Regions from separate parts of the Homo sapiens genome. Here region 1 is linked to region 2. A link means that fine-mapping ties the variant in region 2 to the plasma level of a protein whose gene starts in the linked region. Region 2 holds a variant in brackets. A gene starts in the other region. All regions are shown on their forward strands.

Region 1 (2,893 bases), not on the chromosome of region 2:
GGTCAGGAGATCGTGACCATCCTGGCTAACACGGTGAAACCCCGTCTCTACTAAAAATACAAAAAATTGGCCGGGCATGGTGGCGGGCACCTGTAGTTCCAGCTACTCGGGAGGCTGAGGCAGGAGAATGGCGTGAACCCGAGAGGCAGAGTTTGCAGTGAGCCGAGATCGCGCCACTGCACTCCAGCCTGGGCGACAGAGCAAGACTCCATCTGGAAAAGAAAAAGAAAACGTTCAGGTCTGAGCCAGAGGCCCAGGCTGTAATTCTGTCACTTACCATGACCTTGGGCAAGGCACTTCCTTCCCTGGCCCAGTTCACGGGGTTGGAATCGACTCCAAGGTCCCTTCCAGCATTAACGCTGCATGGTTCTAAGATGAGAAGATGGGGCAGTTTCCCCTCTCTCACCCCAGCCCGTGTCCACTTCAAGGTGAATGACCAGGGAAGTCACGTGTCCCAATCCCGCAGTTCCAAAGCCCTTGGGGACCCTACTGTCAGGGTCGTGCACGAGGAGGTGAAGGTCAGGTGAGCCAATCGCCTCGAAGGGTCTTGCCTCATTCGGGACAGACATCCGGTTTCCTCTGGCTCTACCGGGATTCTAGGGGCTTTAGCCGAATGAGTCATGGGGGGCGGGGGGGTTTCTGGGGGAGTTCCCAGCTAATCAACTTGGGACAGGACAGCCTGGAACTTTCGATGGTGCCTATCCAAGTGTGGGGTGGGCACAGCAGCCAAGACCCAATGTCCTTATCTCAGGTAGGGGCTCAGGAGGTCTCCCAGACAGGCAGCCTCCGGAGAGTTTGGGGGTAGGAATGGGAGCAACCAGCTTCTTTTTTTCTCTCTTAGAATTTGGGGGCTTGGGGGACAGGCTTGAGAATCCCAAAGGAGAGGGGCAAAGGACACTGCCCCCGCAAGTCTGCCAGAGCAGAGAGGGAGACCCCGACTCAGCTGCCACTTCCCCACAGGCTGCTGCCGCTTCCAGGCGTCTATCAGCGGCTCAGCCTTTGTTCAGCTGTTCTGTTCAAACACTCTGGGGCCATTCAGGCCTGGGTGGGGCAGCGGGAGGAAGGGAGTTTGAGGGGGGCAAGGCGACGTCAAAGGAGGATCAGAGATTCCACAATTTCACAAAACTTTCGCAAACAGCTTTTTGTTCCAACCCCCCTGCATTGTCTTGGACACCAAATTTGCATAAATCCTGGGAAGTTATTACTAAGCCTTAGTCGTGGCCCCAGGTAATTTCCTCCCAGGCCTCCATGGGGTTATGTATAAAGGCCCCCCTAGAGCTGGGCCCCAAAACAGCCCGGAGCCTGCAGCCCAGCCCCACCCAGACCCATGGCTGGACCTGCCACCCAGAGCCCCATGAAGCTGATGGGTGAGTGTCTTGGCCCAGGATGGGAGAGCCGCCTGCCCTGGCATGGGAGGGAGGCTGGTGTGACAGAGGGGCTGGGGATCCCCGTTCTGGGAATGGGGATTAAAGGCACCCAGTGTCCCCGAGAGGGCCTCAGGTGGTAGGGAACAGCATGTCTCCTGAGCCCGCTCTGTCCCCAGCCCTGCAGCTGCTGCTGTGGCACAGTGCACTCTGGACAGTGCAGGAAGCCACCCCCCTGGGCCCTGCCAGCTCCCTGCCCCAGAGCTTCCTGCTCAAGTGCTTAGAGCAAGTGAGGAAGATCCAGGGCGATGGCGCAGCGCTCCAGGAGAAGCTGGTGAGTGAGGTGGGTGAGAGGGCTGTGGAGGGAAGCCCGGTGGGGAGAGCTAAGGGGGATGGAACTGCAGGGCCAACATCCTCTGGAAGGGACGTGGGAGAATATTAGGAGCAGTGGAGCTGGGGAAGGCTGGGAAGGGACTTGGGGAGGAGGACCTTGGTGGGGACAGTGCTCGGGAGGGCTGGCTGGGATGGGAGTGGAGGCATTACATTCAGGAGAAAGGGCAAGGGCCCCTGTGAGATCAGAGAGTGGGGGTGCAGGGCAGAGAGGAACTGAACAGCCTGGCAGGACATGGAGGGAGGGGAAAGACCAGAGAGTCGGGGAGGACCCGGGAAGGAGCGGCGACCCGGCCATGGCGAGTCTCACTCAGCATCCTTCCATCCCCAGTGTGCCACCTACAAGCTGTGCCACCCCGAGGAGCTGGTGCTGCTCGGACACTCTCTGGGCATCCCCTGGGCTCCCCTGAGCAGCTGCCCCAGCCAGGCCCTGCAGCTGGTGAGTGTCAGGAAAGGATAAGGCTAATGAGGAGGGGGAAGGAGAGGAGGAACACCCATGGGCTCCCCCATGTCTCCAGGTTCCAAGCTGGGGGCCTGACGTATCTCAGGCAGCACCCCCTAACTCTTCCGCTCTGTCTCACAGGCAGGCTGCTTGAGCCAACTCCATAGCGGCCTTTTCCTCTACCAGGGGCTCCTGCAGGCCCTGGAAGGGATCTCCCCCGAGTTGGGTCCCACCTTGGACACACTGCAGCTGGACGTCGCCGACTTTGCCACCACCATCTGGCAGCAGGTGAGCCTTGTTGGGCAGGGTGGCCAAGGTCGTGCTGGCATTCTGGGCACCACAGCCAGGCCTGTGTATGGGCCCTGTCCATGCTGTCACCCCCAGCATTTCCTCATTTGTAATAACGCCCACTCAGAAGGGCCCAACCACTGATCACAGCTTTCCCCCACAGATGGAAGAACTGGGAATGGCCCCTGCCCTGCAGCCCACCCAGGGTGCCATGCCGGCCTTCGCCTCTGCTTTCCAGCGCCGGGCAGGAGGGGTCCTGGTTGCCTCCCATCTGCAGAGCTTCCTGGAGGTGTCGTACCGCGTTCTACGCCACCTTGCCCAGCCCTGAGCCAAGCCCTCCCCATCCCATGTATTTATCTCTATTTAATATTTATGTCTATTTAAGCCTCATATTTAAAGACAGGGAAGA
Region 2 (2,829 bases):
CTCTAGGTGGGGTGGATGGATCATACAAACGGAGCCTCCCCAGGCTGGGGTCCAGGCTTCTCACCCCCCTCCCCTTTTCCCTCTGTTCCCTTGTGCTAGGTTCTAGGAAGGAGGGCAGGAAGAAACAAGTTGGTGGACACAGCAGGCTCTTAACTATTCACTGAACCACACTGTGACGTGCGTTACAGTCTGTCCAAAAGCTAACTCAGCTCCCTAGGCACATGCAAAGTGCATGCAAATCACATATAAATGCGTCCACGCCTCCCAGACCTGTTGGAGTCCTAAGCCCCGGTTTGTAGGGATCTGTTTGGACTGCGGGAGGTGTCGAGGTGGAGGGATGGCCTTCAGAGGGAGTCACCTTCCAGAACAGCTGCACTGTCCTGGGGTCCAGCTGCCTCTGCCGCCACCATGTGTCCAGTCTGACAGTGGGGGCTGTGGATGGAACAAGAAGAGGGGGTGCCAGTTGGGGAGGGGCCTGGGGCCTGGACTGGATACTGTTGGCTGCTCCCAGCCTCTCATCACCTCCTTACCCCGTTCGGTAGTTCTCAGCTCCAGGCTGGGGCTCCAGT[C/T]GCTCCAGTGGCCAGGCAGGGGCCAGCGGATGCAGCGTATCTGCAGGGTGTAGGCCGTGGCTGGGAGGAGCCCGCAGAGCTCATACTGAAGGGCCTCCAAGGGGAGGGGGCCCACCTGGTGAGGGGTGGACAGGACTCTGAGCCTTGGATCGCTGGGCCATTCTAGGGCCAGCTCGAGCCCGACTTACCCTGCCCCCTGCCCCCACCACCTCAGGCTCTCCAGGTTGCCCTCTGCCTCACCAGTGCCCAGCTGGCTTCTCCACGCTGCGGCTTGTGGCGCAGCTCACACTTCTGATTTATGTGCAGGCCTGGCTGCCATGGCTCCCAGCACAGCTGTAGGCAGCCTGCCTGGGGAGGGGCCGCTTCAGGGCTGGGGTCCATGGTCCGCAGCATGGGGGGCTCCAGTTTCACTGCAAGGAGTGGGGCTGTCAGAAGGTCTCCCTATCCCACCCTAGAGGGCTCTGCCTTAGCTCCCTCTTGTCTCCCTGTCTGTGGTTCACCATCTGTCCACGTTGCCAATGACACGTTTCTGTGGTTCGATCTCTATGTGTCTTTGTTTCTCTCTAGGTCTCTGTTTCCGCTCTTGCCCCAGGGCCTTTGCACTGGTTGTTACTTCTGCTTGAAATGTTTTCCCTCCAGATATCCAGCGGCTTGCTCCCTCATTTCCTTCAAGGATCTGCTCAATTGTCACCCTCTTAGTGAGGCCTTTCTTGACCAGCATATTAAAATAGCCAGTGCTCCCCTTCCCCCCTCTCTCTCTATGCCCTTCTCCTCCTTTAATTTCTCCTTTCTGCTTATTGCTATCTGAAATTCTATCTTATTTTCCCCCCCACTTGAATCTAACATTCTGAGGGCATTTTTGATGCTTTGTATCCCCAGTACCTAGAGCAGTGCCTAACATGTAGTGGGTGCTTTAGGAAACACGCTGAAAGCATGACTGAATGTGTCTCTTTGCCTCTGTGTCTCTTCCTGTCTCTGGGTCTGTGTCCCCATTTCTCTGTCTCCAGCTGCACCTTTCTTTGTCTCTGTCCCTCTTCTGTGCCTCTGTCTCTAGGTCTTCCAGTGTCTTCTTGTCTGTCGCTAGTTCTGTGTTTCCCTCTCCATTCCTCTCAGTGTCTGCCCATTTTGGGGATCCCCTCCCTCCCCTGCATCACCCACCAACATCCATGGGATCAAGACACAGTTGTGGGGACATGCTGGTCCCCAGCGCATTCTCTGCCTGCACCCAGATGCCCATATTCTGGTACAACAGCAGGTGTTTGCGTGGGATGCAGCAGTGGCTCTGCCCGTCCTTGGGCACGCAGTCCAGGATGGAGTCCCCTTGGGTCTGACAGTTGCCCCGGCTCCTGCCAATAGTCCAGGCTTGGGTGCCAAGCAGAGGAAGAAAGCGAGGCTCCCTTCTCCCTCCCAGAGGCATGCCCAGCATCCTACCCATGCCCTACCCCAGAATCCAAAGGGAGGGGACCAAGGTGGGGGCCCCTCCTCACTTGAAACTCTTCAGAGTGAAGCTGGTGGGTAGGTGGGTCTCAGGTCCTGGCTCCCACTGGCAGATGAGGCTGCTGGTTGTGAGGTTCATGAGGCAGGAGAGGTTGTGGGGTATGGCTGGAGGGTCTGCATGTGGGTGGGAAGAGTGTGAGGGCTTTGGGTGGGACCACTCAGAAAGCTTCCTCTGGGACCAGCTGGCCCTGTTGCCTTGCCCTGGCTTGGTTCCTCTGTTGTCACCTTGTCTGTCCCCCTGTCTCCAGGCAGAGTGGCTCTGGAAGGGCAGCCCTGGGGGAAGCTAAGTTGCAGGCATGCACCGGGGCAAGCATCACAGACTCCCAGCAGCCCAGTGGTGGCCCACTTCCAAGGCCCCCAACTCTAGACCCTTTGTCAGTGACAGTGTAGTGTTTGAGTTTTCATCCTGGTCCTGCCATTCATTAGCCCTGTGATCTTGAAGTTATTTAACTGCTCCATGCCTCAGCATCCTCATCTGTAAAATGGGGATAATGGTAAAATCCCACCCCCTAGCGTTATCACAAGGGCTAAATGACTCACTCTACATGAAGTGCTCAGAACAGTGCCTAACTTACAGGAAATGCTATGTAAGTGTTAGCAGTGGCCATTACTGGTGCTTTTTTTTTTTTTTTTTTTTTTTTTGAGACAGAGTCTCACTCTGTGGCCCAGGCTGGAGTGCAGTGGCGTGATCTCGGCTCACTCGGCTAATTTTTGTATTTTTAGTAGAGACGGGGTTTCCCCATGTTGGCCAGGCTGTTCTCAA

Alleles and levels. Alleles are on the strand shown, and positions count from the first base shown. The strength of an association depends on the size of the effect and on how common the allele is.
As copies of T replace C in region 2, the plasma level of the protein whose gene starts at base 1,293 in region 1 goes up (weak association).

The links. PIP is the chance, under the fine-mapping model, that this variant and not a neighbour inherited with it causes the effect. The UK Biobank Pharma Proteomics Project read protein levels with antibody pairs (Olink). The fine-mapping took linkage between variants from a reference panel, not from the people measured, so its PIPs are less certain.
Region 1: it holds the start of CSF3, and the variant in region 2 is fine-mapped to the plasma level of the CSF3 protein (UK Biobank, PIP above 0.99).

Annotation. Positions count from the first base shown.
Region 1 is chr17:40,014,148-40,017,040 of GRCh38, forward strand. CSF3 (colony stimulating factor 3) reads left to right here and starts at 1,293. Exons shown (of 5, transcript NM_172219.3): 1 at 1,293-1,367; 2 at 1,544-1,698; 3 at 2,086-2,193; 4 at 2,338-2,484; 5 at 2,648-2,893. The coding sequence starts at 1,328. The coding sequence ends at 2,812. It overlaps PSMD3-AS1 (PSMD3 antisense RNA 1), which reads right to left and starts at 494. Exons shown (of 3, transcript NR_198981.1): 1 at 407-494; 2 at 91-212. RefSeq lists an enhancer at 1,203-1,702.
Region 2 is chr1:36,471,708-36,474,536 of GRCh38, forward strand. It overlaps CSF3R (colony stimulating factor 3 receptor), which reads right to left. Exons shown (of 17, transcript NM_000760.4): 5 at 2,057-2,180; 6 at 1,728-1,915; 7 at 810-979; 8 at 531-684; 9 at 359-432. Among named protein-coding and RNA genes, the nearest start is that of MRPS15, 8.7 kb to the left of the region's middle. The variant C/T (reference allele first, on the strand shown) is at 570.